7 linked regions of the Homo sapiens genome follow. The protein of the gene in region 1 interacts with the protein of each later gene in a pairwise test. Each region holds a gene or a part of one and is shown on either strand. Other genes may lie near its edges.

What was found.
Region 2: the proteins of LMO2 (region 1) and EFHC1 interact in binary tests that used the Homo sapiens proteins (3 or more experiments, as listed by UniProt).
Region 3: the proteins of LMO2 (region 1) and ISY1 interact in binary tests that used the Homo sapiens proteins (3 or more experiments, as listed by UniProt).
Region 4: the proteins of LMO2 (region 1) and PBX4 interact in binary tests that used the Homo sapiens proteins (3 or more experiments, as listed by UniProt).
Region 5: the proteins of LMO2 (region 1) and MSN interact in binary tests that used the Homo sapiens proteins (3 or more experiments, as listed by UniProt).
Region 6: the proteins of LMO2 (region 1) and MISP interact in binary tests that used the Homo sapiens proteins (3 or more experiments, as listed by UniProt).
Region 7: the proteins of LMO2 (region 1) and PAX9 interact in binary tests that used the Homo sapiens proteins (3 or more experiments, as listed by UniProt).

Annotation. Positions count from the first base shown.
Region 1 is NC_000011.10:33,864,577-33,868,076, forward strand, and holds part of LMO2 (rhombotin-2), read right to left. Parts: intron 242-3,500; coding exon 26-241; intron 1-25. UniProt on the Homo sapiens protein: Acts with TAL1/SCL to regulate red blood cell development. Also acts with LDB1 to maintain erythroid precursors in an immature state.
Region 2 is NC_000006.12:52,426,842-52,430,341, reverse strand, and holds part of EFHC1 (EF-hand domain-containing protein 1), read right to left. Parts: intron 1-3,500. UniProt on the Homo sapiens protein: Microtubule inner protein (MIP) part of the dynein-decorated doublet microtubules (DMTs) in cilia axoneme, which is required for motile cilia beating.
Region 3 is NC_000003.12:129,140,564-129,144,063, forward strand, and holds part of ISY1 (pre-mRNA-splicing factor ISY1 homolog), read right to left. Parts: intron 1-3,500. UniProt on the Homo sapiens protein: Component of the spliceosome C complex required for the selective processing of microRNAs during embryonic stem cell differentiation. Required for the biogenesis of all miRNAs from the pri-miR-17-92 primary transcript except miR-92a.
Region 4 is NC_000019.10:19,608,688-19,612,187, forward strand, and holds part of PBX4 (pre-B-cell leukemia transcription factor 4), read right to left. Parts: intron 1-3,500.
Region 5 is NC_000023.11:65,733,654-65,737,153, reverse strand, and holds part of MSN (moesin), read right to left. Parts: intron 1,888-3,500; coding exon 1,724-1,887; intron 360-1,723; coding exon 229-359; intron 1-228. UniProt on the Homo sapiens protein: Ezrin-radixin-moesin (ERM) family protein that connects the actin cytoskeleton to the plasma membrane and thereby regulates the structure and function of specific domains of the cell cortex.
Region 6 is NC_000019.10:757,612-761,111, reverse strand, and holds part of MISP (mitotic interactor and substrate of PLK1), read right to left. Parts: coding exon 2,386-3,500; intron 1,204-2,385; coding exon 1,073-1,203; intron 1-1,072. UniProt on the Homo sapiens protein: Plays a role in mitotic spindle orientation and mitotic progression.
Region 7 is NC_000014.9:36,668,360-36,671,859, reverse strand, and holds part of PAX9 (paired box protein Pax-9), read right to left. Parts: intron 1-3,500. UniProt on the Homo sapiens protein: Transcription factor required for normal development of thymus, parathyroid glands, ultimobranchial bodies, teeth, skeletal elements of skull and larynx as well as distal limbs.

The sequences.
Region 1 (3,500 bases):
CCCAGTGGAGTGCCGGGGAGGGTACCTGAGATAGTCTCTCCGGCAGAGCTTCCGGCCCAGTTTGTAGTAGAGGCGCCGCCCCACCTCACCCAGCCGGCAGCCACAGAGGTCGCAGCTCAGGCAGTCCTCGTGCCAGTACTGGTCGATGGCCTTCAGGAAGTAGCGGTCCCCAATGTTCTGCTGGCAGCCGCCGCATGTCAGCAGGGATGGGGGGATCTGCAGCACCTCATCCACTGGTTCCCTGGAGAGAAGGCCAAGCATCAGGGACAGCCTCACCAGAGTGAGACCAGCACCGAGGGTCCGAGATCGTTTTGGGCCAGACAGGGCATCTCACCTGACTGCCTTTCAGTGACCTAAGGGAGAAGGGACAGGACAACACATCCCTTGGCCAGACTGCAGAGTCCCAACCAACCTTGGGTTAAGACGGGAAAGAGCCAGACCTTACTCCCTAGATGTCTAAGAAGTAAACACAGGGCACCAAGAGGCATCAAAGGCAATTGCAGGTGGCACTGTGCCCCTGCCCATGCCCAGCACTACCTGGGCACCTCTGGTCTCCTTCTGCTTTTTCCCACTCTCCCCGCTGACTCTATCTTCACAGATCTCCCTCATTTTCCTCCTCCCATAACCTGGACACCCAAGGGCACTGCCTAACCTCAAAGGACGCACTCTGGACTAAAAGAGTCGCTCACTGCCAGGGCAGCAGATGACCCAGAGTGCTAAGAATCTGCAAATCCCCAGTGCCATCCTCCCTCCAGCCCTAACCAACTGCACAAAAGCAGAGGTGAGGAAGAAAGAAGAATGAGACCAAAAATTATTTTAGGTTGCTTTCTCTTTCCAAAATCAAAATTCCATCAGGACATAATAGGAATTCTCCTAATTTTACTTTTTTACAGAAATTCCATTTTCCATTCTTCCTACTGAAGGAATACTTGGAGGAAAATCCCATATCGTAAGGCCATTGTTACACGAAGGACATCAAATAGGCCTTTCTTTCCTTACCTGAACATTTTTATAAGAGTAAAATTGATTTGGATAAAGTTGATTTGAGGAAGAAAATGAAGTGGGGGCAATGATTATTTCAAAGAGAGTGGAAGGCAATTAAACAGACACTGACATCTCAATCCAGCAATTGTTAATAGGCTGTGACACGTGTTCTTTCGTTAATACGCCATGCATAGCATCTCCTGTTCACTTTGCTTCACTGGAATCTGAATACATTTTTACATTTAAAAATAAATAACTTTGCTAAAAGAAAATAAAGGAGTGGAAGGAATTATTCTAGTGTCCCCCACATGGGACACAGCAAACACTTAATACGTGTTGATTTATAATAATTAGCAAGTGTTCTCTGGAACCTTACTTAAACACAAATCTATTTCTTAAAAATCTATTATGTTTCAAAAAACAGACCTTCTTCCATCTGTAAAATTCCCAAAGGGAGTTTCCTCCTGGGTACCCTGCAGGTATAAATCCATGTCTCCTATTTCTAACTGGTACTAACTTACCAGGCGACCTTGTGTCCTAATTGGTCTGTGCCCATAAAGCCCAGCAGCCATTATACTTGGGGACAGGAGGCTAGGTGGCTCAATGTCTATAACACTCTGACAACTTCAGGTGATCCCGTCATGTGAAGTATGAAGTGTTCCTTATGAATATTTAGGAGTGCTAAAGCCATGCCCACACTTTCTAGACACAGTGTAACAGCACTTCATGAGACTATCATCTTTGGAACAAGAAAATGGGAAGCTCAAGTTAGTTTATCTGGGGAAAAAAAATGGCCAGGTACAGTGGCTCACGCTTGTAATCCCAGCACTTTGGGAGGCCAAGGCAGGAGGATCACTTGAGCCCAGGAGTTTGAGGCCAGCCTGGGCAACGTGGCAAAATCCTGTTTCTACAAAACATATAAAAAATTGCCCAGGCTTGGTGGCATGAGCCAGTAGTCCCAGCTACCCAGGAGGCTGAGGTGGGAGGATCATCTGAGCCCAGGAAGTTGAGGCTGCAGTGAGCACTGCACTCTAGACTAGACAACACAGTGAGACCCTAGCTCAAAAAAATTCAAAACTATAGTTTTTTGTTTGTTTGTTTTGAGACACAGTTTCACTCTTATTGCCCAGGCTGGAGTGCAATGGCACAATCTCGGCTCACTGCAACCTCCACCTCCTGGGTTCAAGTGATTCTCCCGCTTCAGCCTCCCGAATAGCTGGGATTACAGGTGTCCACCACCAGGCCCAGCTAATTTTTTTTATTTTAAGTAGAGACGAGGTTTCATTCACTGAAGCCTTGCTTTCTTTCCTTTGTTTCTACAGATTGTATATAAGGACTGCCATTTCCCCTTCTAATAACTAATACCCTAGCTTTTTCATGTGTATCAACTCAGAGTTGCATCTCTTCTCTTTCCACAGCCCATGGTCTTACTCTGGGCTTTCAAAACCACTCATGGAACCTGGACGCACATTGGATGTCCCGATGTTGATGCTGCCAAAGGACTGTGAAAGAAGAGAATTTGCCCTTAGCTGGTGCAAAACTGCCTGGAATTCAAATGAACTGCTCTTGTTACTCACAGGGGAGGCAGTGGGGGCCACCAGTAGCACAGCAAGGGAATCTGTGTTCATGAATTCTGGCTGGCTTTCTGTCCAAATGTTTCATTTGCATATAGCTAGGCAAGTCTCCATCTGTAATTTGGAGATGCTGATTGTAATGACCCAAGCTGGATTTGAGGAAGTACACAATGAAGCATCTAGTAGGATACTGGACAACAGGAGGAATGTAAAGTAAAAGAGTTACGGTGATGGCCTGAGATGAGATGGAGAAGTAAAGTATAAGATATTGGCTCTGTCTTTCTATACTTAATTAATGATAATATCACATTATACTTAGTGGACAATCCAAGACAATGACTGAATTAGATTGATTCACCCTCAAATTAATATTTTATATTCTCCCAGACCCTTATCTTGAATATTACACCTGAGTATCATTTAAGCCTGGATTTCTGGGACAATCATAACAATTTCTAAGGGCATGGGGAGAATGTGCTGCAGCAATTTCTCAACTGGCTTGTCCCTCTTTGATCAGAATCTGTCTTCGTTGGGCAAATAGTGAAGTGAAGGAAGGAGCTGGTGAGCCTCCAGCAGTAGATATCTGTTGTATTAGGAAGTTAGGATGTTTCAGTTTCTAACCTCAGTGAAAAAGCACAAACTTTGAAAGAAGCAAACTTCCTTCAGGGAAATGAAACCTTCAGATTAATCTTCTATTGAAAGGATTAGTGACTAAATTCTGCTGATCAAAAAGGCATGAGGCACCAATTCATCCAATTCACTCCCTTATTGTGTTACTATGATCTTGCCCAGTCTCTGAAACTCAGAGCTCAGTTTTAAGTTTATTTTAAAAAAGTGATCAAACCACCCTTTAAACCCATTGTTTGCATAAACATACTTTTAAAAAGGAATGTTATTTTTCTCCTGAGAATTTGTTGAAGGAAGTGGGGGTTTTTGTTATAA
Region 2 (3,500 bases), on another chromosome or scaffold:
ACAGCCAACATAATGCTGAATGGGGAAAAGTTGAAAGCATTCCCTCTGAGAACTGGGACAACATAAGGATGCCCACTCTCTCCACTCCTCTTCAGCACAGTACTAGAAGAAGTCCTAGGCAGAGCAATCAGACAACAGAAAGAAATAAAGGTCATCCAAATAGGTAAAGAAGTCAAACTGTCACTGTTCACTGATGATATGATTGTTTACCTGGAAAATCCTAAAGACTCCTCCAGAAAGCTCCTAGAACTGATAAAAGAATTCAGCGAAGTTTCTGGATACAAAATTAATATACACATATCAGTAGCTCTTCTTTACACCAACAGCGACCAAGCTGAGAATCAAATCAAGAACTCAACCCCTTTTACAATAGCTGAAAAACAAACAAACAAACAAAAACTTAGAAATATACATAACCAAGGAGGTGAAAGACCTCTACAAGGAAAACTACAAAACACTGCTGAAAGAAATAACAGATGACACAAATAATGAAACAAATAATGGAAACACATTCCATGCTGATAGGGTGGGAATCAACATTGTGAAAATGACCATACTGCCAAAAGCAATCTAAAAATTCAATGCAATTCCCATCAAAATACCACTATCATTCTTCACAGAATTAGAAAAAACAATCCTAAACTTCATATAGAACCTAAAAAGAGCCCGCATAGCCAAAGCAAGAATAAGCAAAAAGAATAAACCTGGAGGCATCACACTACCTGATTTCAAACTATACTATAAGACCATAGTTACCAAAACAGCATGGTACTGGTATAAAAATAGGCACATAGACCAATGGAATAGAACAGAGAGCCCAGAAATAAAGCCAAATACTTACAGCCAACTGATCTTTGACAAAGCAAACAAAAACATAAAGTGAGGAAAGGACACCCTATTCAACAAATTGTGCTGGGATAATTGGCAAGCCACAAGTAGGAGAATAAAACTGGATCCTCATCTCTCACCTTATATAAAAATCAACTCAAGATGGATCAAGGACTTAAATCTAAGACCTGAAACTATAAAAATTCTAGAAAATAACATTGGAAAACCTCTTCTAGACATTGGCTTAGGCAAGGGTTTCATGACCAAGAACCCAAAAGCAAATGCAATAAAAACAAAGATATATAGCTGGGACTTAATTAACCTAAAGAGCTTTTTCACGGCAAAAGGAACAGTCAACAGAGTAAACAGACAACCCACAGAGTGGGAAAAAATCTTCATAATCTATACATCTGACAAAAGATTAATATCCAGAATTTACAATGAACTCAAACAAATTAGCAAGGAAAAACAAAGAAGCCCATCAAAAAGTGGGCTAAGGACATGAATAGACAATTCTCAAAAGAAGATATACAAATGGCCAACAAACATATGAAAAAATGTTCAACATCACTAATGATCAGGGAAATGTAAATCAAAACCACAATGTGATATCATCTTAGTCCTGCAAGAATGGCCATAATCAAAACATCATAAAATATTAGATGTTGGTGTGGATGCAATGAACTGGGAACTGCTGGTGGGAATGTAAACTAGTACAACCACTATGGAAGATTCCTTAAAGAACTAAAAGTGTGAAGATTCCTCAAAGAACTAAAAGTAGAACCACCATTTGATCCAGCAATCCCACTACTGGGTATCTACCCATTGGAAAAGAACTCATCATACAAAAAAGATACTTGTACATGCATGTTTATAGCAGCACAATTTGCAACTGCAAAAATATGGAACCAACCCAAATACCCATCAATCAATAAGTGGACAAAGAAAATGTGATATATATGATGGAATACTATTTAGCCATAAAAAGGAATGAATTAATAGCATTCACAGTGACTTGGATGAGACTGGAGACTATTATTCTAAGTGAAGTAACTCAGGAATAGAAAACCAAACATTGTATGTTCTCACTCATAAGTGGTAGCTAAGGTATGAGGATGCAAAGGCATAAGAATGACACAATGAACTTTGGGGACTCAGGGGGAAAGGGTGGGAAGGGGGTGAGGGATAAAAGACTACAAATTGGGGGCACTGTATACTGCCTGGGTGATGGGTGCACCAAAATCTCACAAATCACCACTATAGAACTTACTCATGTAACCAAACACGACCTGTTCCCCAGTAACCTATGGAAATAAAAAAAATTGTTTTTAAAGTAGTGGGATAACATCAGCTTTCCCAGGTAGAATAAGAACTTGATTGTTACGTAGAAAGAAAAGAAAAATTATATTTAAATACTGTGTTTAAAAATATACTTTTCATGGAATTTTATAGCAGGCTGGGCTCCTGATTATCATGTATTCTAACCTTCTGAGTTTATAGACGAGGAAATTAGAGATTGTGACTACAAGGTCACAATGTTAGCTGGTAGGAGACCCAGAATTAGAATCCAGGTCTTCTAACTCCCAGGAAGTGCTCAGAATGCCACAATAAACATAAAAATATTTGTATTTACTTCAAGATGAAGGGGGGAAATGCTGCATAAATATTTTCATATCACACACAATTATAAAAAGCCAAGTCACATTTTTAATTTTACATTATTATAAGCATATATGGTACGTGTTTGACTTGCCAATTTTCAGCAGTGACACAGACAAGAAATAAATTTTGTTAATTATTCATGTCATTTTAGAACTGATATTTATTGAGCACTAAATATATAATAAACTATATAAGTCCTTACCTTCATGAAGTATACACTCAGGTGGGACAGATAAACACTAAACAAATCAGCAACACAAATTATAATATAGTGCTGCAAAGGGGAAAAAAAAAAAAGAGAGGGAAGTGATATAGAAAAATGAGGAGGAACTGCCATAGCAGAGTGGCCAGGAAAAGCCTCACTGAAAGGAAAGATGGAGTCAGCCACTTAAGGATGGTGGGGAAGCTATTTCAGATAGGAGAAATGCCATGTACAAAAAGGCCCTGAATTGGAATTTTCAAATGCTGCCATTTCAAGGAAATCAGTAAAAATAAATCCAATGTATTGAAACATGATAGGTGAGAAAAAGGACCCAAGATGAGGCTGGGGAGAGAGCAGGGAGGGCCAGCTCCAGTAGGGCTGTGAGGAACCTGTAGAGTTGGATCTTTATAGATGATAGGGAAGCCATGGAAGTGTTTCAGTCAGTATGTGACATAATCTGATTTTCAAAAAATAAGCCTGGCTGCTCTGTGGAAAATAAATTTATGGTAATAGTGAGGATGAAAATAAGTAAATGAATTAGTTACATATTTTAGAAGCAGAAACAATAGAACTTGCTAATAGATTAGATGTGGATTGTGAGGGGAAAGAAGAATGAAAGATGACTTTCATGTCACAGTGAGGTGAATGGTGGTAATGTTTACTGTATTGGTTAAGAAAGCCTGATGGCATTTTCCCAGAAAAATGACATAATCAGAGCTGAACTCTAGAGAATAAACAAGGCAGCATACCTGTTATAAGCATAAGGACTAGGAATGAGACTAAAACAACAGTTAGGTAGTCATTTGGC
Region 3 (3,500 bases), on another chromosome or scaffold:
AGTCTCGCTCTGTTGCCCATTTATTTATTTGAGGTGGAGTCTCGCTCTGTTGCCCAGGCTGGAGTGCAGTAGCACAATCTCACTGCAACCTCCACCTCCTGGGTTCAAGTGATTCTCCTGCCTCAGCCTCCTGAGTAGCTGGGATTACAGGTGCGTGCCACCACGCCTGGCTAATTTTTGTATTTTTAGTAGAGACGGGGTTTCACCATGTTGGTCAGGATGGTCTTGAACTCCTGACCTCATGATCCACCCACCTCGGCCTCCCAAAGTGCTGGGATTACAGGCGTGAGCCACTGCGCCTGGCAGATCTGATCTTTAAACCCACTATTTCCATGTTTGCAAATATATTTTAAGATAATAGCTGGATGCAGTGGCTCACACCTGTAATCCTAGCACTTTGGGAGGCCAAGGTAGGCGATCACTTCAGCTTAGGAGTTCAAGACCAGCCTGGGCAACATGGCAAAACCCTGTCTCTACTAAATATACAAAAATTAGCTGGGTGTGGTGAGACATGCCTGTAATCCCAGCTACTCAGGAGACTGGGGCAGGAAGAATTGCTTGAACCTGGGAGGTGGAGATTGCAGCGAGCCAAGATCGTGCCACTGTACTCCAGCCAGGGCTGGAGTAAATTAAATAAATAAATAAATAAATAAATAAATAAATAAATAAAAAACACTTATGGGCTGGGCACGGTGGCTCACACCTGTAATCCCAGCACTCTGGGACACCAAGGTGGGAAGATCACTTGAGGCCAGGAGTTCACGACCAGCATGGGCAACATGGCAAAACCCTGTCTCTACAAAAAAATGCAAAAATCAGCCAGGCATGGTGACACACACCTATCGTGCCACTGCATTCCAGCCTGGGTGACAGAGCAAGACCCTGTCTCAAAAAAAATAAATAAAACTAGGCCGGGCGCAGTGGCTCACGCCTGTAATCTCAGCACTTTGGGAGGCCGAGGTGGGCGGATCACGAGGTCAGGAGACCGAGACCATCCTGGCTAACATGGTGAAACCCCGTCTCTACTATAAATACAAAAAATTAGCTAGGCATGGTGGTGGGCGCCTGTAGTCCCAGCTACTCAGGAGGCTAAGGCAGGAGAACGGCATGAACCTGGGAGGCGGAGCTTGCAGTGAGCTGATATCACACCACTGCACTCCAGCCTGGGTGACAGAGCAAGACTCCGTCTCAAAAAAATAAAATAAAATAATTAAAAAATAAATAAATAAATAAAGATAAAAAACACGATGCTAAGTGACAAAACCTTTAAAAAGATTACAAACAACCTATATGACAATTAGTGGAAAACAAATGAAATATATCCAGAAGATACAACTATATCTATTAAAACTGATGATTTGCTGGGTGCGGTGGCTCACATCTGTAATCCCAGCACTTTGTGAGACCAAGGCGGGAAGATCACCTGAGGTCAGGAGTTCAAGACCAGCCTGGCCAACATGGTAAAATCCCATCTCTACTAAAAATACAAAAATTAGCAGGGTACGGTGGTGCACATCTGTAATTCCAGCTACTTGGGAGGCTGGAGCACAAGAATCACTTGAACCTGGGAGGCGGAGGTTAGGGTGAGCTGAGATCGCACGCCACTGCACTCCAGCCTGGACGACAGAGCGAGACTCTGTCTCGAAAAAAAAAAAAAAAAAGACGATTTGACAACTACATGTAGTATGTGACCCCAGATCAGGTCCTGTACTGCAGGGGAAATGCTACCAAGGACATTATTGGGAAAACTGATGAAATGCCACATGGATTCAATTATTGTAGCCAAGTTAAATTTCTTAAACTTGATAGCTCTACCATGGTTACATAAGAGAATATTCTTCTTAGGAAATACACATATATTAAAGGGTAAAGAAGCATGATGTATTGTAACCTACCTTTCAAGTGGTTCACAAAAAATAAATCTCAAGGTACACAAAGAAAATAAAGCAAATACAAGCAAAATGTTAAATACTGGTAAATCTGTATAAAGGGTATATAAAAGTTCTCTGTATATTTTTGCAATGCTCTTTGAGTTAAAAAACATTTTTTTAAATCATACAATTTGGCTGAGCACAGCGGCTCATGCCTGTAATCCCAGTACTTTGGGAGGCTGAGGCAGGATGACTGATTGACTCCAGGAGCTCAAGACCAGCCTGGGCAACATAATGGGACACCATTTCTACAAAAAATTTAAAAATTAGCTGGGCATGGCCAGGCACGGTAGCTCACACCTATAATCCCAGCACTTTGGGGAGCCAAGGCAGGTGGATCACCTGAGGTAGGGAGTTCGAGACCAGCCTGGCCAACATGGTGAAACCCTGTCTCTACTAAAAATACAAAAATTAGCTGGGCGTGGTGGTGGGCACCTGTAATCCCAGCTACTCTGGAGGCTGAGGCATGAGAATCGCTTGAACCCAGGAGGGGGAGGTTGCAGTGAGTCGAAATCACACTCCTGCACTCCAGCCTGGGTGACAGAGCGAGACTCCGTCGCAAAAACAAAAATTAGCTGAGCATGGTGGCACACACCTGTCATCTCAGCTGCTCAGGAGGCTGAGGTAAAAGGATTACTTGCACCTGGAGTCAAGGCTGCAGTGAGCCATGATCGTGCCACTGCACTCCAGCCTGGGGTGACAGAGTAAAATCTTGTCACAAAAACTAAGAGGCTGGGTGCAGTGGCTCACATCTGTAATTCCAGCAGTTTGGGAGACCAAGGCGGACAGATCACCAGAGGTCAGGAGTTCGAGACCAGCCTGGCCAACATGGTCAAACCCCAACTCTACTAAAATATAAAAATTAGCCAGGTGTGGTGGCGCACACCTATAATCTCAGCTGCTCTGGAGGCTGGGGCACAAGAATTGCTTGAACCCAGGAGGCAGAGGTTGCAGTGAGCCAAGATCGCACCACTGCACTCCAGCCTGGGTGATGAAGCGAGACTCTGTCTCAAAAAAAAAAAAAAAACTAAACTAGAATAAAATAAAACAATATACATATCTATCATATGATTATTTATTGACACGAAACTGTATTCCTTGTACAGTTTAGAGAATAAAGCACATAGAATATTAATGAATTTCTATAATGTATATACTAATATGTATTTTTTATATCTTATAATTTTTATATTTATATTTTTTCTCTGCACAAAAATATGTACTGTTTATATAATGAAAGCTACCATTTTGAAAAGAAAAACAAAATCCAGAACCAAAATTGTACATACAGTGAGTATGGTTTCAATTATGACATTCATACAAAAACAACGGAAGGAGAAAAAAGATAAAGAGCATATTCAAGTGGCTGCACTTATGTAATGGGATTGTGACTGAGTGTTGTTCTGCTTCTTTGTACTTTTCTGAACTTAGTGGTAATATATTACTTTTATATGTAGAAAATAAAAATAAAATTATTAAGCATTAAAAATCTCTGGAAAAAATATATAAAAATATTAATAGTGTTGAATTTGGGTGGTGGAACTTAACATTTCACATACGAATTTTTTC
Region 4 (3,500 bases), on another chromosome or scaffold:
CACCAAGCCTACAATGCCGCATCCACTTTCTTTGCCTAGGCAAAGCCTCAAGTCCAGATCTTGGCCATCTCCTCAAGGCTCCTTGTCCCCCGCCTGACTTCACCTAGACTCCAGAGTCATGCACTCTGATTGCCCATGCTCTACAAGCTCTAGTCTTGCTGAAGGGCTAACTCCTCATTGCCCTCTCTGGTCCCCGTGTCACCGCACTCTCCAATGTCTGCCTCTCCAAATAATGAATCTCCTTTCAGAACTCACTGCTGCATTCCCAAGCCCAGCACCAGACCTGGCACAAAATACATGTTTATTGAGTAGATGACATTTAATTTGCGAGAATGTACTTTTAAAAGTGTCCTGTAAAGCCCGAGCCTGACTGTCTGATCTCCCACGGCACCCAATCAGCTGGGCTCCTCTGAGCAGGAAGCGATGTCAGATTTAAGTGAGTTTTGTAGGATCCCTGGGAAAAGCAGAGACAGGTGGCAGGCAGTACAGCCTCAGAGTTCAATAGAGCATGCCCAAATCTCCATCCAACTACCCTCCAGTTATCTGGCCACTTGATTCCTTATCTAGAAACACAGTGAAGAGCCAGGCGCAGTAGCTCACACCTGTAATCCCAGCACTTTGGGAGGCTGAGGCGGGTGGATCACCTGAGGTCAGGAGTTGGAGACCAGCCTGACCAACATGGAGAAACCCCGTCTCTACTAAAAATACAAAATTAGCCAGGCGTGGTGGTGCATGCCTGTAATCCCAGCTACTTGGGAGGCTGAGGCAGGAGAATCGCTTGAACCCGGGAGGCGGAAGTTGTGGTGAGCCGAAATCGCGCCATTGCACTCCAGCCTGGGCAACAAGAGCAAAAATCCATATGAAAAAAAAAAAAAAAAAAGAGCCAGGCGCAGTGATTCACGCCTGTAATCCCAGCACTTTGGCAGGCCGAGGAGGGCAGATCACGAGCTCAGGAGATCGAGACCATCCTGGCTCACACGGTGAAACCCGGTCTCTACTAAAAATACAAAAAAATTAGCCGGGCGTGGTGGCGGGTGCCTGTATTCCCAGCTACTCGGGAGGCTGAGGCAGGAGAATGGCGTGAACCCGGGGGGCGGAGCTTGCAGTGAGCCGAGATTGCGCCACCACACTCCAGCCTGGGCGACACAGCGAGACTCCGTCTCAAAAAAACTAAAGAAAGAAAGAAAAACAAACAGTGAAAAACCACCCACTTCCTAGGGTTCTGGGGAGGGGTAAATGAGGGAAATCCTTATTGTCATCATCATCAACCACTGTGTTCTGATAGAGGCACTCGGTAGCTGTCATTTAAATGAGTGAGTGGTACTTGCTCCTTTGTGAAATTCTACACATGGCTTTACTTTTCATTAATAAAGCTATTTCAAAGGGGATTTTGCCAAAAGACTTTTAGATAGCTTCAGGGAATTGTTTTAAAACTAACACAATTTGCCAGGCACGGTGGCTCACGTCTGTAATCCCACCACTTTGGGAGGCTGAGACGGGCGGATCACCTGAGGTTGGGAGTTCGAGACCAGCCTGAACAACATGGAGAAACCTCGTCTCTACTGAAAATACAAAATTAGCTGGGTGTGGTGGCACGTGCCTGGAATCCCAGCTACTCGGAAGGCTGAGGCAGGAGAATTGTTTGAACCCGGGAGGTGGAGGTTGCGGTGAGCAGAGATTGTGCCATTGCACTCCAGCCTGGGTAACAAGAGTGAAACTCCATCTCGAAAACAATAAAAAATTTAAAAAACTTACAAAAAAATAAAAACAACACAATTCAAGCTGGGCAAAGTGGCTCACACCTGTAATCTCAGCACTTTGGGGAATCCGAGGCGGGATAATCATTTGAGGTCAGGAGTTCAAGACCAGCCTGCCCAACATGGTGAAACCTCGTTTCAACTAAAAATATGAAAATTAGCCGGGTGTGGTGGCTGGCGCATGCATGTAATCCTAGCTAATCAGGAGGCTGAGGCATGAGAATCACTTGAACTTGGGAGGTGGAGGTTGCAGTGAGCCGAGATTACGCCACTGCACTCCAGCCTGGGTGATAGAGCAAGACTCTGTGTCAAACAACAAAAACCAACACAATTCAACTCTTAGGAAAAGTACACCAAAGACAGCAAGACTCCTCTGGCACTAGACCAAGTCAAGCTAAGCCTGCAAGCAAGCTAAGAAGAAAGACTACAAGGCACGAAGTCAACTGGCATCTAATTAATCTCTTTAGGGATACTGAAAAAGAAAATTTTAAATATGAAATCCTACTTCCCAGGTTTGGACTGATAGATCCTCTCATGCTAATGCTATCTGGCTCTGGGAAATTCCACATCATAAATTCCCCCTAGAACCCTTGCATTCTTTGAATGGGTGTGCGGAAGGCTGAATGCTCACTGACATGCTTTATAACTATGTATGAATATAAGGTCAGAACATACATAAGTATACATACTTTATAAGTATATGTGTTCTGACCTTATATTCACTATTGCAAAAGTACCAAGCCTAGGGGAACACATTTCAGGTATCAGTTCACACCTTGCCTCTTCAGTAAGTTTAAAGGATAGTCAAAATCACTTCATTATCTCCCCTTCATAATAGGAATTTAATCCATATCTAGGCAAAGTCAATCTGCAGAAATATTGGAGGGACTAAGAAAGTTATGCAAATCTCTACTAGTTGAGGTCATAATAGTAAAAATCAAATTAAAAAGAGAAGGCCGGGCATGGTGGCTCACACCTGTAATCCCAGCACTTTGGGAGGCCGAGGCGGGCAGATCATGAGGTCAGGAGTTCAAGACCAGCCTGGCCAAGATGGTGAAACCCCGTCTCTACTAAAAATACAAAAAATAGCCTGGTGCAATGGCAGGTGCCTGTAATCCCAGCTACTTGGGAGGCTGAGGCAGGAGAATCACTTGAACCCAGGGGGCAGAGGTTGCAGTGAGCCGAGATCATGCCACTGCATTCCAGCCTGGGTGACAGGGTGAGATTCTGTCTCAAAAAAAAAAAAAAAAAAAGAAAGAAAAGTTCAGAGATATGTTTTCTTCCTAAGAAAACCTATGCAGGCATTGCTGGGTTGCCTAAAACCAACTTCCAAATACATTTTTGGTTTTAGGTATGCCATCTCACACACCACACTGCTTGCTCCTAAAACATTATAACAGTGAGCATTTAGAATGGGTGGGATGGCTCATGACTGTAGTCCCAGCATTTTGGGAGGCTGAGGCAGGAGGACAGCTTGAGCCCAGGAGTTCAAAACCAGCCTGGGCAACATAGTGAGACTCTGTATCTACAAAAAAATGTTAAGGCCAGGCACAGTGGCTCATGCCTGTAATCCCTGCACTTTGGGAGGCTGAGGCAGGCAGATCACCTGAAGCCAGGAGTTCTAGACCAGCTTGGCCAACATGGTGAAACTGTGTCTCTACTAAAAATACAAAAATTAAGCCGGGCATGGTGGTGCATACCTGTACACACCTGTAATCCCAACTACTCGGGAGGCTGAGGCAG
Region 5 (3,500 bases), on another chromosome or scaffold:
GCAGTGAAGAGCACAGAGATAAAGACGACACAATAGCTTCGTTCCTGGAAATGATCCACCCCAAGACAAAGCTGGCAGAAAGTTCTGAGCTCTCTTCTTGCCCATTCTTCTTCTAGTCTGTAGCCACACCTGAACTACATTGTCTGAGTCTACAGCTCAGGCAGAAGGTTCTCCAGCTCAGAGTTAGGCCTGGAAAAATCCAATCTCCAAGGTGACTCCAAGCCTCACCTTGCTGAGCCTTCTTAGTCTGTTCCTCGATCTGCTTCAGCCTCTCCATCAGCTCCTCCTTCTCCCGTTCAATCTTCTCTTTCTCCTTCTCTGCCATTTCACGCTTCTTCTTCTCATTTTCCAGCATAGCACTAGGGAAGGAGATAAAATGGATAGAACAGGATAACAACGCTCCACAAAAGCCTGGGGAGGCCAGGCGCGGTGGCTCACACCTGTAATCCCAGCACTTTGGGAGGCCGAGGTGGGCAGATCACGAGGTCAGGAGATCGAGACCATCCTGGCTAACACAGTGAAACCCCGTCTCTACTAAAAATACAAAAAAAATTGGCTGGGCATAGTGGCATGCGCCTGTAGTCCTAGCTACTCAGGAGGCTGAGGCAGGAGAATTGCTTGAAGACAGGAGGCGGAGGTTGCAGTGAGCTGAGATTGCGCCACTGCACTCCAGCGTGGGCAAAAGAGCAAGACTCCATCTAAAAAAAAAAAAAAAAGCCTGGGGAATTCCAAGGCTTGCTGCCTCTGGGTCTCTCAACCCAACCTTCCCAACACACTTAGGGATTGTGAGTTTGGGCCACCCTCCCTTACCTCTATACCCTTGTCCTCATATCATAGCCCCACATAGGCCAGTGTACACGGGGCCCTGTCAATGTACCCCTGAGTCAGGAATCCTAGCTCTCCCACCAACCCACTGGGTGACCTTAGCTATGTCACTGCTTTGCTCTTGTTCCCCTATCTTGAAAATGGTCCAATAAGACCTGCCCTATCCACCTTGTTAGGGAGACAAGTTTTGGCTCTGTGCTGGGATGAAGTGCTTCAAGTCTAGTAATCTCTACGGCTAGTGCATCAGTCCTCAGGTCTAACACTGCCTGCCCTAAAGCCCAGCTCTAGGCTTCTTTTTCCCAGAGTCTGTTACAAATCTGGAATAAGTATTTGCTTTTGCTTTTTCTTGCCCTAGCACCTCTTCCAGGAACCTTCTTATCTCCCTTGGCTAGGTATTCTCCATCTGGGCCCTCAGAATACTTGGCTTACCCTTCTCCCCATCCCTCTTCTATGTTTTTGTCTCCATAGCACTTCTTAACCATCTTATGTACCACATAATTTGCTTATTTATTATGTTCGTCTCCTCCCCACTAGAATGCTAGCTTCACAAAAGCAGAGATTTTTGGTCTTTTCTTATTCATTGCTCAATAAATATTTATTAAGTGAATGAATGACATGGCCTTTGTACCTTGAGTTATGTATATATTGTTTTCCCTCTCTCTGCTACTAGACTGAGTAGACTGTGAGGTCCTACAGGGCAGTTTCCTGCTAGATCCAGCTCTGTAAAAACTGCCCCTCAAACTTGGTAGATTTTTTCTGAATAAATGTGAATATTGGTGTCTAACCTCTCATCTATGAAGTCCTAGGTTGGCCTCATGTCCTGACTTAGCATGCAGGGCACCTTTGAGAAGCTTCCTTGCCCCAGCCCTGGCCCCCCACATCAGTGTGCAGCACCTACCGCTCCATCTGCTTCTGGTGCTTCTCCTCCCGGGCCTGTGCCTTCATCTGCTGCACCTCAATGGTATCAGGCTTGCGACGGCGCATGTATAGTTCATGGTTCCCCATGCACAAGGCCAAGATCCGCTTGTTAATCCGCAGCCGGGGAGCATAGAAGACGAAGTCCTGGTGGGAAATCAGCAATCAGAAAGAATTTGGAGGGACAGGTGAAGGTGATCTTCTGCCTTCTGAAAAGCTAAATCCAAAAGCACTGGAAAGAATATTTAATCTGACCTCCTGCACTACAGATGGGAAGACTAATTATCAGAGTGGTAAAGTGACTTGCCCAGGGTTAGACAGTAGACAGACCCAAGACTAGAAACCCAGGTTTCTTGACTCTGAAACCCATGTTCTTCCCATAATTTCTTTCAATCTTTGCTTATGAAACCACAATTTCTTTCAATCTTTGCTTGTGAAAGCATCCTAAATTACTCTTAATCAAGTTGAAGGATTCAAACTTTCTCTGCTAATTAGGGAACATGCTAGGTCTCAGGTGACCTCTTTTGGAAGCCAAATGACCCCTGAATAATACCCTGGTGGGTGCAGTATGGGTGGCTGGACTGTTTCTACAATCTCCTAAAAGCAAATCCTAGACCCAGCCCCTTAAATCCTTTTTGGAACAAGGCAGGCTGTAAATACATACATGAATACATAAATCTCCTGATCACTGCTTGTCCTGGTTGTTGTTTTTAAAATGAGCCCTTGATCTCAGCTGGCTTTGTTACTTAACTTTTTCTGATAATAGTTGAGCACAGCAGCAATAAAAGAAAACACACAAGAAAATCCAGTGAGTTTGAGTTTGTTACTACAAATACCACTGGACCGAAGTCACCAGCTGATGGGCACCACCATCTCCTCTGCCACTGACCACACACTGCTACTGTCTCATATAGCTTGGGGTGCAGGTATAAATCCCAGCTCTACCATTTTTAGCTGTGTGATCTTGGGCAAATCACTCCATCTCTCTAACCTCAGTTTTGTCAGCCATAAAATTAGTATGCTACTTAGTACCTACCTGACCATGTTGCTGAGGGTTTAAGGAGACAACATGTGTAAAGTCCCTAGCAGGGGAAGTTCAGGCACCTCATGGCTGGAGAAGAATCACTGAGCCTTCATGAAAAGGGTCAGGCTCAGCATTGTCACTGGGCCTTGTTGGACATGCAGTATCCCAGAAAAGGGGACACTCAGCTCAGTTTCCTAACCTACCCACAATCACCAGCTGTCTGGTCTTGTCAGCTGCAGGCTACTGAGTGGGTAAGAAGCATGGCGAGTGTGTTAGAGAAATGAATGAACTTAAAGCACTTTTTTGGTCTTGGATTGCTCTGGAGAAAAGTCTGAGAGGGCAGCAGTAAAGTTCTACCAAGAAGTCTGTAGGATCATCTTCAGATTTGGACTTTGGCCACAGCCCTTTCTCCACAATAAAAAAAAAAGAAGTCAAGGGCTGGGCATGGTGGCTCACGCCTATAATCCCAGCACTTTGGGAGGCCAAGGCAGGCAAATCACCTGAGGTCAGGAGTTCAAGACCAGCCCGGCCAACATGTTGAAGCCCTGTCTCTACTAAAACTACAAAAATTAGCCAGGCATGGTGGCATGCGCCTGTAATCCCAGCTACTCGGGAGGCTGAGGTTGTAGTGAGCCAAGATTGCACCACTGCACTCCAGCCTGGGCAACAGAGCGAGACTCCATCAAAAAAAAGAAAGAGAGAGAGAGAGAGAGGAAGGAAGGAAGGAATCAAATAT
Region 6 (3,500 bases), on another chromosome or scaffold:
TCTCAAAAAAAAAAAAAAAAAAAAAAGGACATAATATTCCTCATGGCACTAAATATTCCTCGTGTCATTAAAAGTGACGTGAGGAATATTTCATACTGACAAAAGGAGCTCTCATCCAAGAGGATAAACATACATGAACAATTACATGTCTAACAACAAGGCATCAAAATTCATAAAGTAAAACCCCTAAGGCAAAGCTCTGTGGCCTGTAGGTCCTGGAGTCAAGCCTGGGTTCATGAGCTGCCTAACCCTGGGCATGTGAGACCACCAGGGTGCTAAAGGTGTGGTTCATTGGAAGCCCCGAGCCAGCGTGTGACAGACACATCCCTCCGTCTCTCCCTCTCCCTCCCTCCCTTCCTTCCTCGCTTTGTTCCTTCCTTCCCTCCATCCCTCCCTCCCTCCTGCCTTCTCTCTCTCTCTCTCTCTTTCTTAGAAGTAAATATCTGTGGCCAGGTGCAGTGGCTCATGCCTATAATCCCAGCACTTTGGGAGGCCCAAGTGGGCAGGTCACTTGAGATCGGTTTGAGACCAGCCTGGCTAACATGGTGAAACCACGTCTCTACTAAAAATACAAAAAAATTAGCCGGGCGTGGTGGTGCACGCCTGTAATCCCAGCTACTCAGGAGGCTGAGGCAGGAGAATCACTTCAACCCGGGAGGTGGAGGTTGCAGTGAGCCGAGATCGTGCTACTGCACTCCAGCCTGGGCGACAGAGTGAGACTCCGTCTCAAAAAAAAAAAAAAAAAAAGAAACTAATGCTGGTGACGATGACAAATTGCCAGTGTCCTCCTCCTCCAAGCAGAGTTGGTCCTTTGGTCTTTGATCCTGGAGATGACCTCCTGATGGGGACAAAGACCCCAGCTTATATGGCCTCTCCAAGCAGAAGCCCAGAGATACAAGGACACCAAGTTTATCATCTTCTACCTGACATCTGCAGGAGACTGAGGCACGGCCAGGGGTGGGGGTAGTGCTTGAACCCAGGTCAGGCTTGAGTCCTGCTTGAACTTCCTGTGGCCCTAATAGGGGCTGTCTGACCTCAGCCTGGCCTCTGCAGAGACGGGTTCCAGACTCACCCATTGCTCCTTCTTTCTCTGCCCGGGAGGAGCACTGTCCACTGGATCTTCCACTGTCCACGCCACGTTTGAGTGTAGGTGGATGGGGCTGAAGAAGGGAGACTCAGACACCGAGTAACTGCCCGTGATGCCTGTAGGGGAGCAGGGAGGGCAGAACATTAGAACATTTGTCAGACCTCTGCTCGGGAGACAGAGTCTCTAGCCAGCAGCTAAGGAGACAGATGTATGGACAGACAGAGCAGATGACTATCCGGGAAACTGACAGATTGACCAAAGTAGCCAGTCAGGAGAAACTGGATGCACAGATGGGCCGACATGCAAGGTGAAGAACATTAAAAGTGGCCGGGCGCGGTGGCTCACGCCTGTAATCCCAGCACTTTGGGAGGCCGAGGTGGGTGGATCACGAGGTCAGGAGATCGAGACCGTCCTGGCTAACACGGTGAAACCCCATCTCTACTAAAAATACAAAAAAATTAGCCAGGCGTGGAGGCAGGCGCCTGTAGTCCCAGCTACTCAGGAGGCTGAGGCGAGAGAATGGCGTGAACCCGGGAGGCGGAGCTTGCAGTGAGCCGAGATCGCGCCACTGCACTCCAGCCTGGGTGACAGAGCGAGACTCCATCTCAAAAAAAAAAAAAAAAAACATTAAAAGTGACACAAGGAATATTTCATATTGTCAAAAAGGTGCAACTGTCCAAGAGGATAAACATATATGAACAGGCCGGGAGCAGTGGCTCATGCTTGTAATCCCAGCACTTTGGGAGGCCAAGGCAGGGTGGATCGCCTGAGGTCAGGAGTTCAAGACCAGCCTGGCCAACATGATGAAACCTGTCTCTACTAAAAATACAAAAATTAGCCGGGAGTGGTGGTGGGCACCTGTAATCCCAGCTACTCAGGAGGCTGAGGCAGGAGAATCGCTTGAACCCAGGAGGTGGAGGTTACAGTGAGTTGAGATCCTGCCACTGCACTCCAGCCTGGGCGACAGAGCGAGACTCCGTCTCAAAAAAGAAAACCGAAAAACAAAAAACAAAAACAAAAACAAAACACACAAAACATATATGAACATTTATGCGCCTAACAACAAGGCATCCAAATCCATAAAGCAAAAGCCCTAAGGTAAAGTTGACATTTCTCTCCAAAATCTACATTTTTAATAGACAGGCAGACAAACCAGCGACTGAGGGGATGAACAGTCAGGAGGCAATGTCTCCCCAACCCCAGCCCTTTGACAGCCTCAAACTCCACCTCCCCACCCTCCCCTGCTCCAACCTCTGAGACCCTGAGCCAAGCAGCCACTCCCTGGAGCCCCTTCTCACCGGATGCCTGGGAGGAGCTCCTGGAGTTCTGGTCAGAGTTCTCATCTGGCGTTGGGGAGAAGACCTCTGGGAAGAGAGCATTTCTCCGCTCCTCTGCCACCTCTTGCTCCCGGCGCAGGACACTCTCCCTCTCCCTTTCCAGCAGATCAGATGACTGGGACTTCTGCAGCCTCAGTGCAGGGGCCCCAGCCACCTCCCAGCCCCAGACATGGGGGACTTGGGCCTGCTGGGGCTCGTCTGGGGCCCTGAACCGCAGAGGACGCAGGCGGAAGTACTCCCACCGCACGACACCCCTGTTGGCTTGCGGGCATCCCCGAGGGGGCTTCGATGCCTCTTGCTTTGTGCTCAGGGGTTTTCCAGAGGATTCTGAGAGATGCCTCGGGGACATCGTGGCCTTTGGTGAAGTCGCAGCCTTGGCCTCCGCTGTGGAGAGACTGCTGGGCTTGCCGAATGCTCCGAAGGCTGAGAATTCTAGCTGGGGGGTCCCGGGGCTCAGGTACGGCTGGTAGGCATCAGGTGGGATGCGGTTCACCTTCCTCACTTCTGGAGCTGGGTCGGCCGCACGGGCATCTGGGGCCGGGCTGAGGATGGAATCTGAGCTGAGGGCTCTCCGGAGTCCGGGCTGGGGACCCTCCGAGACCCAGTCGGGTGTGGACGCCCGGCCCACGTGCAGGCCCTCCCGCCGGTGGTCTTCCTCACGCTGTGTCTCCTGTACTATGTCCCGCTGCACGTAGAGGGACGGGCGCCCTCTCTCCCGCCGTGGGGCTGTGATCAGGCTCAGCTTGGTCAGCAGCGGCCTGGTGGGGATTTCCACCAGCTCCTGGTGGTCGGTTGCCTGCCGAAGCCCCCTCTGCTCTCGCAGGTCTGCCTCACGCTCCTGAGCCAGACGGATCTCCCGCTCGATGGGCGTCTCCTTGGGGGTCCCCGGGGACTCCACTGAGGCCAAGGAGCCAGGGTCATCCACAACTTGGACACTGGCCCAGGTGGGCACAGCACGCACCTTGTTCTCTTCCCTGACCACCCCCTTCACCTGGGGCTTGATGGGAACCACGTGCCCGTTGGCCAGGTGGGGCTTGTTGAAGGCCTTGGGGGCCTGGCTGGCCCCTGGGGTTGTG
Region 7 (3,500 bases), on another chromosome or scaffold:
ACATTAACGGAAATAGTCTAGAAAAAAATATATAAGATGCAATGTAGTTCTTCTAGTTAAGGTTATCACAAGAAGAATGAAAGTACAAGTTTTAATTTCGTTTGTTCCAAATGTTCAAAATACAGATTTACCAATTTTTTAAAAGTAACTTTGGTGAATATGTTGAGGAACTGTATTGGCAGAGGGCTAGATTGTAAACTGTCTGAGGACAGGGACTTGCCTTAATCATCTTGTATCCCCACAAAACAGGATACATCATAAGCATTCCACAACCATATGTATATTTAAGTTAGTATAGGTTTGTGAAAGCAAAAGATGTGACACTGTAGCTTAAAAAACAAAGCAAAAATGTAGGCACCGTTTATCACAAAACAAGCATTACACTTTAAGCAAGCAAAATGAATAAAGCTGTTGAAAAAAGTAAACAGAAGTTCTAACCTAGCCATTTATTACTTGATTTATGGTTATTCCATTTATCCTCCCTCCTCCAAGTAAAGGAAAATACGTTAGTATCAAAACACTTGTGACCACCATAAAACTGGTATGGCAAATGTCTGGCAGTTAGAGGTTATAGACCATTATTCAAATTCTGGGAATTGTCTACTCAACATTATTTATCGTGAAGATAAATGCAAATAACAGTGCCAGGTCCTCTACCCACAATCTGCTTTCACTTATCAGTTCAACCTGGTCCTCTTATGATAAAATGAATTTACCTTGGCTTTATAATAAAGTAGATTTAGCCACAAATAGAGATGTGCTTCACCTAGAATTTCAACCTCGATATCATAAGCAAGAAAAAGTTTTGGATCTGAAAATAAACAAGATTTTCTCTTTTTTGGTGAACTCATTTTTCTGTCATTCTTCCATTTTTAATGCATTATGCAATGACCTAGTAAAACATACCTGACAAAATGAAATGATGGTTATAAATATGGTTTCAACATTCATCCAACAAGATCTTAATTATGCTTACTTATCATATTGTAGATGTAAATGTCTCTAAGAAATGGAAAGCCGCTATTTAAAAGCTTTTCTAAATTTTATAATTTTCCAAAATATTATTAAAATTGACATAGCCTTGAAAAATTTGCAATTACCTTTCCCTGCTATTTTATACAATACATTTTACTGATACATGATCATTAATTTTATTTTGAAATACTACTGGTTAAAATGTAACCAGGTCAAAGAATGTTTTTCATAACAGATAACATTATGAATTTCAAAGACACTCTGCTGGCATTTGCCTAAGATTTCATTGTCTATAAATCATAACTTATTTACAAAAATTAACTTTAATATGAAGACAAATTTAGTGCAATATCATTTATATCTTCCTGAGAATAGTACATCCACAAGGACAGCCAGTTTTTAAAATAATACACTAGAAAATCACATTCAGGATTCTAGAAGACTATCTTCACTTCAAATGCATGTGCAAGTAAATGCTTCATAAGAATTTCAGATTATATCTTTAAATTCAACTATTTTCACAACTTAATTCTGAACTTTTAAAAAGTTCAAGTATTTATAGACTATTCTCTATTTCTGACATCTCAGTCTGTAGCTAGTGTTATATTAAACTTGCCAAATTAATATCTGCAACCCCAAAATGAAGATACCCAAAGCTTATAAATCTGTCACTCCAATTACTTTAGAGTATCAGATATGCAATGTATCTTTCTTGAGACAGTATGCCCATTTGTAGAAAATTTTTCAAGAACTATACAATTATTTATATATAGTTTGAATAAAATTGAGGCATTAATTCATGAAATACTTCCTAAAAGGGCAAATGTATTCCAGTCCCTATGATTCTCTATATAAGGTTTTTTGGCCACTCAATTTTATTCCATTGGAGTTTTATGCTTTCAACAGAAGAGAACCGGCCATCAGGAAGCAGAGAACATTGTTGCCATTCAGAAGTAAATGGAATTAAGTACTTCTAGCCCCAATATTAACTGTGGGTATAAAAAAGCCAAAATAAATATTCTATCCTCAGAGACAATAAGGACTTCTGAATGGCACTGCAAAATATTAATTACAATGTAATATTAATATGTAAGACAAGTTAGAATATTCTACACTGAATTTTCAAAGACAAAAGATAGGTATATGCATAGCTGAAATGTGCATACAGTTTTAATTACTAGGAATCAGGACATCTGTCTTTACAGTTTAAGCTGAAAATAGAAACTCTAGATTATGGTAATCAATAGTATCTATACTCAGTTGCATAGTTTAGCCCTTTGGTAATTCTACAGATGTCCTCAAGAAAAATATGCTTTAAGCTCTATGATTCTGAATTCTCAATTTCCTTCTTTGTATAATAAAATTAAACTAGTATCATATAATTTTGCACTATTTAATAACAATCACAAATGCCCTGAAAGTGGGAAAAATTTTAAAGCTTTTTTTTGGCCAAAGACATTCAAGTTATTGTCCATAATATAAGCAGAGGGAAAAATACGTGTTACCAGAGTTTACATTTTGGTTGAAATATGCTGATTCCATTTTGAAAAATAACTTTTAAAAATAAATCTGCCCTTTGAATATTGGTAAGAGAAATGCACATATATGGGCAACACTTTACCTTTGTATGTTTATAAACAAGTATTAATGTGCAATTTAACCTTACATGAAATCAATGTCTAAAGTTCAAAACTGCTCAGAAAAATGGCACGGCTGAACTTGGCACATCTTCAACATTAAGCACTATTTTGATAATTATCATAGAGTAGCCACTAATTTATATTATTCTTAGAAACTTTTCAGGTTTTGAAATTTTACATCATTTGAATTATCTAACTATTAAATACATTGCAATGCAGAAGATTAGCATATTGCAATTAAGAACTTCGCAAATGTAAGTTTCATATAAATATTTTTATTCTGGAAAAAATAGCTTATTAAGTATTTAGAGCAATATTTATTTGGTTACTTATTTCTTTAAATTATATTCTTTTATAAATGTGATAATTTAGTGATTTAAAATTTAGTATATAAAATGTAATCTATTTTTAATAATCAGAATATCAATTATTTAAAACTTCAAATTTTTTATTTTAAATAATTTGTCAGTTTAGTTTTGAAGTGTATTATAAATTAAGCATTTCCAAACAAATTTCAATGTTAGATCTATAATTCAAGGAAGAGAAAATAAAAATTACTGGCCGGCACGGTGGCTCACGCCTGTAATCCCAGCACTTTGGGAGGCCGAGGTGGGTGGATCACGAGGTCAGGAGATCAAGACCAGCCAGGCCAACATGGTGAAACCCTCTCTCTACTAAAAACACAAAAATTAGGTGGGTGTGGCGGCGCGTGCCTGTAATCCCAGCTACTCAGGAGGCTGAGGCAGGAGAACCGCTTGAACCCGGGAGGCAGAGGCTGCAATAAGTAGAGATCGCGCCACTGCACTCCAACCTGGCGACAGAGCTAGACTCCGTCTCAAAATAAATAAATAAATAATAAGTATAAAGGGTTTTTTTTGGGATTAT